Regions from separate parts of the Homo sapiens genome. Here region 2 is linked to region 1. Evidence: fine-mapped expression QTL. A gene starts in region 1. The other region holds a variant in brackets. All regions are shown on one strand. Distances are between the middles of the regions.

What was found. PIP is the estimated chance that this variant, and not a neighbour inherited with it, causes the effect.
Region 2: its variant is the best candidate, but not a certain one, in a credible set for the expression of GMDS in whole blood (TOPMed, PIP 0.55).

What each region holds. Positions count from the first base shown.
Region 1 is chr6:2,242,960-2,248,338 of GRCh38, reverse strand. GMDS (GDP-mannose 4,6-dehydratase) reads left to right here and starts at 2,734. Exons shown (of 11, transcript NM_001500.4): 1 at 2,734-3,018. The coding sequence starts at 2,917. GMDS-DT (GMDS divergent transcript) reads right to left here and starts at 2,586. Exons shown (of 7, transcript NR_046229.1): 1 at 2,409-2,586. RefSeq lists a silencer at 2,462-3,091 and an enhancer at 2,592-3,092.
Region 2 is chr6:2,264,748-2,270,126 of GRCh38, reverse strand. All of the region lies in intron 3 of GMDS-DT (GMDS divergent transcript), which reads right to left. Among named protein-coding and RNA genes, the nearest start is that of GMDS-DT, 22 kb to the right of the region's middle. The variant G/A (reference allele first, on the strand shown) is at 2,944.

The DNA.
Region 1 (5,379 bases):
TCAGTTCAACCACCCGCTTGTTAACATCTTTCACTGGCCTCCTGGAGAAGGGTTACTCAGCCTCAGCACTATTGACATTTTGGGCTAGAAAAATCTTTGTTGTGGGAGCTTCCTGTGCACTGCAGATGGTGAGCAAAATACTTAACCTCTACTCATTAGATACCTATAGCACAACTCCATTTGTGACAATCAAAAATGCCTCCAGACATTGTCAAATGTCCCCTGGGGGCAAAATCACCCAGGGATGAGAACTGTGTTAGAGGAAAACACAACTGAGCCATCACCCTTAGAGCTTTCCACTACCGCTGGTCGCTTTACTTCTAGTTAATGTAATCTTCTTATGCTGCCCCAGACCCTGTGCTGACGTTGTTCAAGTTGCCCTAATGCTACTGGGAAAATGACAACAACCTCCACTACCAACCTCCTCCCTCCGAGCCCACAAACAGTTAAAAAAAAGAACCTCTTTTTCCCTCTAGCTGTCAATCATGGGTTGAATTTTGTCCCTCCCCCAATTAATATATTGATGTCTTAACTCTTAGTAGCTCAAAATGTGACTGTATTTGGAAATAAGGTCATTAAAGAGGGTCCTAATCAAATGTAACTGGTGTTCTTATAAGAACAGGAAGTTTGGACACAGACACACATACAGAGAGAACGCCATGTGAACATGAAGACAGCCAGCTACAAGAAAAGGAGAGAGGCCTCAGAAGAAATCAGCCCTTGATCCTAAACTTCCAGTCTCCAGAACTGTGAGGAAATAAATTTCTATCGTTTGTCACCCTATGGATGGTACGTTGCTGTAGCAGACCTACCACCTGTCTTCAGAAAAGTTCTCTAGAGAAATAGCCTTTATTCTTCAAGCTTCCTCTGACCTACCATTTCCCATCATTTTATAAATATTTTCAGGCCCTAATAATGTTGATTTTTTTTCCATTTTTCTTCTACTGTCACACACTTCTAGGGCAGGTGTTTGGTGGTGTGACAGGAAATTGACTGGTGTCAACTTCCAGTGTTTGTGTGATAGGAGGTCTCAAAACTACAGGATAAATGTGTCATATCTCCCATAAGTATCAGTTTTGCTCAGTGATTTTTTTTTTTTTTTTTTGAGATGGAGTTTTGCTCTTCTTGCCCAGGCTGGAACGCAATGGCAAGATCTCGGCTCACTGCAACCTCCTCCTCCCGGGTTCAAGCGATTCTTCTGCCTCAGCCTCCAGAGTAGCTGGGATTACAGGTGCCCACCACCACGCCTGGCTAATTTTTTGTATTTTTAGTAGAGACGGGTTTTCACCGTGTTGGCCAGGCTGGTCTTGAACTCCTGACCTCAGGTGATCCACCTGCCGCAGCTTCCCAAAGTGCTGGGATTACAGGCGTGAGCCACTGCGCCCGGCTTGCTCAGTGATTTTTTTAAGGAAAATGTTAAATAATTGGCTCATGCATTAATTTAAAGCGTATTTACATGAAAATGAGTATAGTTTTAGCATATTCCCGTATATTTCACAGACATTTCTAGCTTATAGCATGTTCCTCTCAATGGAAGTGTTCCCTCTCCTCAGCTTCAGGGTCTCTTCATCACTCAGAGGCACCATCAGATGTTTGTTGAGCCATTCTCCTCATAGAACGCAGAGGAGAGGCCAGGTGTGAAACCAGACCAGTCTATCTATAGCTAAGAAATATTCCTAACGGACCTCGAGGAGCGCGAGAGGGAGGTTTTAAATGTAATCCTGAGCTTTTCTGATTTTGGGGTTCCAGGTCTGCTATACATACTCTTGCACGTTATATTGGGCACAGCCCTAGTAACTCTGTGATTTGAAATGATGATCTGAAGTTATCGATTAGGGAGAGGAATGTGGACAGAGAAGCAGAGCAACGGAGACCGGGAAGTTTCCGTCTGTGTCCTGGATTGCAGCCAACTGCTTAGGCACACACACCTGCTGCCCTCCCGGCTCTGAGTCACCTCCTCTCCTCTCCCTGTCCAACGAGCAGCTGCCAAATGGCAGCCAAATCCAACAGATGTAAGCCGGGACCCCACCTGTGTTTGAATTACTTTCTTTGAAATCTGCCACGTCCAGGTTTATTGACCCGGGCAGTCTTTTCAACATTTCCTTATGCCGCATACGGGTGGGGCTAGGGACTTTCTTGTGCACTGGCAGTCCTCAGAAGAGAAAACTTTGAATTCAGCTATTTGGAACCTCGTTACTGGTTCCGAGCCTCAGGAAAGGCCAGAAGAGCGAGAGCCAGCCTAGTTAGTCACTCCCACATCTGTGACCCCCGTTTACGGGCCTTGTACGCTACTGCCCTTCAGGTACCATAAACCGGGCTTCTCAAAGGGCACTGCAACAGGTTTCCAGGAATTATTTATCAAAGTCCATGACCCCGGCCCTGTGACCCCTGGGTTTGAAAATTCAGACCTTCAGCCTAACGGAGAGGTCGGCTCAGCGTTCCTCCCAGCATCCTCGGGCGATATTAGGGTCCTGGGAGATTCGGGAGGCCACTGCGTCCAGGCCCCCCACGGCCAGCCAGGCGAGAGGCGGGACGCGAAGCCGCGGCCTCCTTCCTCTTCCCTGAGGCGGTGGCGGCGGCAGGCCCCGCCCCTCCCGCGCGGTGGCCGTCGGCGGAGGGGCGGGGCCTGCTACAGCGTCGCCGGCTGACGCGAATGACGCTGCGCCAGTCAGGCCGCAGCCCCGCTGCTTGGCCCGTCGGGCCCGCCTTGGCCGGCTCGGCCCGCCCCCGGCCCTCCCTGCACGGCCTCCCGTGCGCCCCTGTCAGACTGTGGCGGCCGGTCGCGCGGTGCGCTCTCCCTCCCTGCCCGCAGCCTGGAGAGGCGCTTCGTGCTGCACACCCCCGCGTTCCTGCCGGCACCGCGCCTGCCCTCTGCCGCGCTCCGCCCTGCCGCCGACCGCACGCCCGCCGCGGGACATGGCACACGCACCGGCACGCTGCCCCAGCGCCCGGGGCTCCGGGGACGGCGAGATGGGCAAGCCCAGGAACGTGGCGCTCATCACCGGTATCACAGGCCAGGTGAGTGCGGGGGCGGGGGCGCGCCGGCCGAGGCAGCCTGGGCACGCGTGCTCTCCCTACGCGCCGCTACTCGTGGGCTGCGGTCTCTCCAGGAACAGCCCTCTCGGCGTCCCGGAAGGGGTCTGCTGCCGGGAGGTGGGACGGAAGGTACGGTGCAGTTAGTGTGTTGCGTGTGGGGTGTGCGGGATACATCGAGCGCCTCTGGTCTTTCTCTGGGGGCTGTGAGCGTGTGTGCCGCGCGGGATGTCGCGCTCACACCCGGGCAGGACCGCCCGCTCTCACCTGCCCCTCAGGTGACCGCAGCGTCTCTTCCTCCAAGCCCATGTCGTGCTTCGCAGCTCCTAGTGCCGGAAAGGGAAAAGAACCGGTGATCAATGAACTTGCGGGTGAGGTCTTCTTGATGTGTCTCGGCTCAAGGGGCGCTTACCTGCTAACGTTTGGGAAGCAAGAAAAAGGGTGCTTTGCTGGTTTCGTCCCCTATCACCGGATTTCCAGATAGAAAAGAGAACATGAAAGAAAGTAATGCTGTGGAGTCACCTACTAGGACATGTTTAGGAAAAAGAACTTAAAAAACTTTTTAAAATCACGCCAACTTCTGAGATTCAGGTTGACACATTTGGAAGTGTATCCGAGGCACACTGGTCCAAAAGTGCGGCTAGTTCCATTTTCAAAGGAATAAGTTCGTCGAGTAAGGTAATCAAGAGGAGGTCTTCGGAATGTCTCAGGCTAAGCATGGCTGGTTTGTGAGGGTCGCCTCTTAGAGGTGTTGCAGTAGGTGGGATCCGACCGCTGTGTCTTACCAAGCTGTGCTGTTTTAGATTCAGTGGTCATGAAGTAATCGTGCCCACATATTGCTGTAGAAAGAATGTGATGTGTGTGCTCCTGGGTATCTCTGGGTGGTGGCCAATATAACACTGAGATAAAGGTGATAATGGCTAATACATATTGTGTCTATCATGTTCCAGTCGCTTGCCTAACATTAACTCATTTAGTTCTCATAACAAACTCTTTGAGGAGGTACTTTTATTATCTCTATATATGTGGAAACTGAGGCATGGGAGTTTGATTTGCCTGAGGTTAAACCGCTGGGAAGTGTCCAGTTGGTATTGAAACCACTCTCAAAGTTCTCTAGTGTTAGAAAGGGCTAAGTGGGCAGGAGGCAGCGGCTCATACTTGAAATCTCAGCACTTCGGTGTGCAGAGGTGGAAGGATTGCTCGAGGTGAGGCCAGGAGTTTGAGACCAGCCTGGGCAACATATTGAGACGTTGTCTCTACAAAAAAATTTAAAAAATGAGGCAGGCATGTTGGTGCTCACCTGTAGTGCTAGCTACTCAGGAGGCTGAGGCAGGAGGATCACTTGAGTCCGGGAGTCTGAGGCTGCTGCAGTGAGCAATGATGGTACCACTGTACTCCAGCCTGGGGCAAGAGAGTGAGATCCTGCCTCAAAAAAAAAAAAAAAAAAAAAAAAAAAAAAAAAGAAGGAGAAGTTGAAATTGGCCAGATGCACAGTCACAGAATATTACACAATTTCAAGTATTGAATACCTGATTTACTGCTGGTTATTCATGCATCTTGCTTTGCTTAAGGTAATCATAATAGACAAGAGTTTGAAAACTAGTAAGAGGTGGATCTGAGTTTGAAAACTAGTAAGAGGGCAAGGATCTGAGGTTGAGAAATTGAATCCTTGAATTGAGGCAGTAAGACAGGTCAGGGCCTACATACTGTCCTCCCCCTTCTCTTTGTTTTCTAATGCTGGGACCTTTCTGCAGATGATTCCCTTTTTTCCATTTTGTCAGACTGGACCTGAAGCTCAAATGTTTACCAAGTTTACCTAATCTCTGGAAAGTAGAGATTTTATTTTAGTATTGTCCGGAAATTAGTTAAGATTAACATCTTAACTAATGTGCTGTGTTGGTGTGGCCTATACCAATTTACACGACCAGCAGTATGAATCAGTGCAGATTAGAAATGGAACCTAATTTTGACTTTTAAGAGCAGTCATTTGGCTGGAACTGAGTGGCCAGGAAGGTATGGAAGTGGGCCCCCACTCTAGTTTGTCCTGCAGCCTGTCATGGGAGTCTACCTGAAGCACCACACTCAGCAGACCACTCCCTGACTGGAATTTTTTGGTTCCTCATTTCATTTCCAACTTAAAACACCTGCATGGCTTTCAGGTTGGGTTGAATCTCTGCCCCAGTGTTTCTTTCTTCCCTCCGGCATCTGCCCTCTGCATTGTCTCCTCATTTGGTGTTGCATTGGCTTCTGTACCCCTAGCATAGTGCTGAATTCTGTAGCTACCACATAAACACTTGCAGATGGAATTTACTGCTCTTTTATGTTTTTTATTTGTATTCCAGGACA
Region 2 (5,379 bases), 22 kb before region 1:
GTTGTCCAAAGGAAATCTCTTACATTTCCTTTGTCTTATATATGACAGTCATATATATAATTTCAAATTATCCAGTAACCACATTTAAAAAGTAAAAAGAAACAGATAAAATTGCCTTAAATATATTTTAATTCAATATATTAAGAAATTATTATTTCAATATACAACCTGGCTGGGTACAGTGGCTCACATCTATAACCCTAGCACTTTAGGAGACTGAGGCAGGAGGATTACTTGAACCCAAGAGTTCAATACCAGCCTGGGCAACAAAGTTAGATCTCGTCTCTACAAAAAATAAAAAAATTAGTTGGGAGTGGTGGCACATACCTGTAGTCCTAGCTACTTGGGAGGCTGAGGCAGGAGGATCCCTTGAGCCCAGGAATTTGAGGTTGCAGTGAGCCATGATTGCACCACTGCACTCCAGCCAGCCTGTGCAACAGAGCGAGATGCTGTCTCAATAACAATAATTTCTATGGGTGGACTGAATGTTTATATCACCCCCAAATTCATAAGATCAAATCCTAACCCCCAATGTGATGGTCCATGGAGGTGGGGCCTTTGGGAGATTAGGTCATGAGAGTAGAAGCCTCATGAATGGGATTAATGCCTTTGTGAAAGGGACCCTAGAGAATTATCTGGCTGTCATTCCACCATGTGAGGATACAACTGGAAATCAGCAGTCTACAACTTGGAAGAGGCTTCTTATCAGATCCCATGATGCTGACTCCTTGAAACTGGACTTACAGCCTCCAAAGCTGTGAGAAAAAACATGTGTTGTTTAAGCCACCCAGTCTATGGCAATCTGTTATAGCAGCCTAAACTAAGTTGAGTGCAGTGGCTCAGTGCAGTGTCACGATCATACCTCACTGCAGTCTCACTTTCCTGAGTTCAAGTGATCCTCCTGCCTCAGCCTCCTGAGTAGTGGGGCCACAGGTATGCATCACCATGGCCAGCTAGTTTTTTTGATTTTTAGTAGAGATGGGGTATTGCTGTGTTGCTCAGGTTGGTCTCAAACTCCAGAGCTCAAGTGATCCTCCCACCTTGGCCTCCCAAAGTGCTGGGATTACAGGCCTGAGACACTGCACTCACCCAAGAAATTATTAATAAGACATTTTATATTCTTTTATTGGCCTGAAAATGCAGTGTGCATTTTATACTTCTGGCACATCCCAATTCAAATGAGCCACATTTTCAGTGCTCAGTAGCTGTATGTGCTGGTAGTTCCCACATGGGACCTCGGTGCTCTGAGTGTAGTCCAAAGACCAGCAGCAGCATCACCTGGGACCTTGTTAGAAATGCAGAGACACTGTATCTCAGAACTTAAAGTAAAATGGTAATAATTAAAAAAAAGAAATGCAGAGACCTGGGCTCCACCCAAGACCTGCGGAATCAGAATGTGCATTTTAACAGGACTCCCCAGGCGACATGGCTGCACATTAAAGTTTGAGACACTCTGGTCTGGAAGACACAGTCAGTCCTCGGTAGAATCCCTCACATCCTCCACTTTTTCCTGAACATCCCCATCACCTGCCTGGTCTTGCTGAAACCTGGCTCTGACCTGGGGCACTCCTGCCCCCCGCAGTTCTCTCCAGTGGTGCCTGTTTCCCTCTTCTTCCCCACTCCCAAGGCCCTCCTGGCTCTGTGTCCCATGCCAGCAGGTCGTACCACCCACTTGCTCTTGTGGTTGCTATCCTTGACTGACCCTAGTCACTGCTTGGCACTTCTAGTTCCTTGTCACTCCAACAAGACTTAGTGATTTCAGCATCTGGTGATCCATCCAGTGTCCTGGCCCCCTCAGTTCTCTCCCCACCTCCAAAAAGCTTGACTTCCATGATTATACCTTAGACATTCCCATTACGGAACACACACACACACACACACACACACACACACACACACCCCTCTACATCCTTGCCATAAACTCAGTTTCAAGTAACCACTCTCCAGCCACTATTTCCTATTTTCCTCCTCACTCCCTCAAGCACCTTGATGGTCTTTCTACCATTGCAGGACCCACAACACATTGATCCATCCTCCACCTCACTGTCCCTCACCCCTCATCTCGTTATTTCTCTCCTTGCCACGGTTATTCCATGCTTCATCCATACAAGCAATCTCTTCCATATACCCCCCTCCTCTCTCTTTTGGTCATACATCCTCACCAAAGTCACAGTCTTGGTTAAATCCAACTCTCTGCCTTCACCATGCAGTTGTACATAGCCCAAGAAAAGCTTGTAACTATTACTTTAAGTACAAGATGATTAACCAAGTTATACTTGAGTGTTGCCAGCCCATTTCCCCAGTCTGTTCTCTCTTCTACTCTCCTAGATGACTCTCACTCCCCTTCCTTAAACTCTCAACACCCCTCCCCCATCCTCACTCTTGGAACCAATGCGGTGGTTAATGTTAGGTGTTCACCTGATGGGGCTTAGGTTGGGGTTTCACCATGTTGACCAGGCTGGTCTCGAACTCCTGATCTTAAATGATCCACCCACCTCGGCCTCCCAAAGTTTTTGATCTTGAAATTTGTGATGAGCATGGAGTTAGAGTGAGAGAGGTAAGGGCCACTTTGAGTTTTACCTAGTTCCATCTCCTATTTTCCCATTGCCCCTCCAAGAGACAGAGTGCTCACACATCTCATCGACAATCTGTAGTGGTTCATATTATACACTTCTTTAGTAGCTCACTCTAGCAGCTCACCCAGCAGTAACAAGTAGTTATCACAGTGCCTGGTATACAGTGGACACTAATAAATATTTGCTGAGTGAAGGCTGAATAAATAAAACGTTCAATCAAAATGTAAATTTGTCTCTTTTGTCTTCCTTGAACTTTAGAAAAAAGGAAACTGCTCAGCATTTTTCTCAAAGCCCTTGATTAGACTTGAAGAGAACATTAAAGAAGGCTTTTCTCTTGACAAAATGACTTCTTAAAACTTTTAATAGG[G/A]GCACTTGTTTTTGCTTTTCATTTTTATAGGAATTCTGGTGACTAGTCTATATTTTATGCAAGGAGGAATACTGAATACAATAAGCTGTAAAAGGCTTCCAGGAATATAGAGTGAGGAAGAAGGAATAACATTCCTGACCTTGAATGTCATCATCTAAATTGATTAATTTTTAAGCTACCCCCATAAAATAAAACTAATAGAAGAACAGAATTATCTGTTTCTCATCAAGATTCAATTCAGTAGGCATTTGCTGAATATCTTTGCAATGTGTTCTGGGTGCGTTCAAAGAAGTAAAATGTACAGCTGGTAACTTTGGAGATGCTCTGTTTTTTCAACAGTGTGAATTAAGATGTCTTTTTTTTTTTTTTTTTTTTTTTGATTTGGCATAACCCAAGAAGGCTTTTTAAAGGAAACACTAATTTCTAGTGTTTACTTGCCTTAGAACTTTGAATCAAGAAGCAGAGAAAGGCAGTTAGGGAGGTGTGAAATGTTTTAACTGACCAAGAATTTCCTTTCTCTTTGAATGCTCTCTTTCCATTTTGCCATTTCACATTTTAAAATTTTTTATAAATACTATCAAAGGTTTATGCTGGATTCCAAAGAAGTTAATAGAAACTTTGAATACATAAATGGAATTCCCAGCATAGTTGAACGGAATGTATACTATTGTGAGTAAATGCTTTATAATTTTTTCCTTTTACTTATTCTCATTGCCATTATATGAATTCAATTGTATGACATTTTATAAATTCACCATTTATGTGATTTTTTTGGCAGGGATTTTTAAAAAGATAGGCAGCAGCTTTTTATAAGTTGCAAAAACCATTCTTAGATGCCACATTTAACCAGGAACACTTAAAAAATAAAAAGCATTTTAAAAATATCCATTTTTAATATTTTAGATGAGATTTATTTTTAGTTAATGTATTTTTAGTTAACTCAGCAATATTGTTTATTTGGAATCCTGTTACTTAAATGTACAAGCTTTCGCCCTGAGATGAGCTTTATGGATTTTCTCAGGATTGACTTGGAAGATATATAATAAGTATTAAGGGAAAGTTTCAGTAACGTTCTTAGTTAAGGATATCAATGAACAGTGGTAATAATGTTTGGTCCAATTTATGCCTTGATTGATTTAAATTCCTGATAACTAAAATGAGAAGGGAAACTTGGCTTAATTAGGAGGTATACTGTATTTTTTTAATGATCATAGATTTCACTATTGGAAGGGAACAAAAACGATAATTTTCTCCAGCACCCTAAGACCTTGCTCCCTGGGGGCCAGGGCTGTGTCTTTGTCTCTAGAGTTTGCTGAGATTCTGGAATGTGTGCTCAGGAAATAGAGTGAGAGAGGGGAGGCATATCTGCCCCATTTAATTGTGAAGCAATGGAGGACAAAGAAGTTTCCTGAGATTACATAACCATCAACAGTTACAATCCCAGATTTTCTGCATCCTCTTGTGGGACATGACAAGAAATAGATACCTGGTCTCTGCTCCTGATTCCTGACACAGAGTTCCAAAAACCTTTGTAACTGCCTGGATGATAGGAATGCTGGGAACATCTTTTTGTTATAATATTTGGTCTTAGTCCCCAGTTTCTAACACAAGAGCTTCTAAGACCCTTGGAATTTCTGGAGTGATGAATGTCCTTCTCTAATGAAATGACTCGGTATTGGGGGCCCTAGATAGCTTCAGGATGGGGTTTGGGGAATGGAGACCAAGGCATGATCAGAGGGATGGACTTCCTGCCTCCCCAACCTTCAGGGAGGGCAAAGGGGCTGGAGATTGAGTTAATCACCAATGGCTCATGCCCAAATAATAAAGTCTGAATAAAAACCATTAAATTTCTTATTCCTCTGCCCCTCACACCTCATCGTCTTACCACTACCATGCCCATCCCTTTGCCATCCTGAAATTCTTTTCCTTCTGGTTTTTAAGCCTAGCTAAAGTGACCTCTGACAGCACAGGATACTGAAAGAGAAAGATCAGGACTTCTATTTCCTCCTGTAGGCTGTGTCCTGTACTGTCTTGTGGGAAAGAAGTTGGCTTATAGCAGGATGAGTCAGAAATCGGGGACTGTTTCCTAACACTAGGTAGTCCCTATGCCTTCTCCTTGTCAGATGTGGTTTTGTTCACTATTAGGTTGATCCACTTTGAGTGTTCAGGAAATACCTAGTTCCATCAGTCCTAGTTTCCATTCATGGGGATGGGTGACTCCTGAACATTCATTCATAGGATGGTCCTACCTAGGCTCTACACATGTTCATACAGGTGTAAGAGCCAGACCCCAGTAGCAGATGAAAACTCTATGATGTGTATCTCTTATGCACTGGTCTCATGCATGAGTGGAGGTGCTGGCCATTTGGGCTCTACCCATCCACATAAGGATTTCTAGAATCCAAGCCTATCCATCTGAAGGTGCTCATACCATTC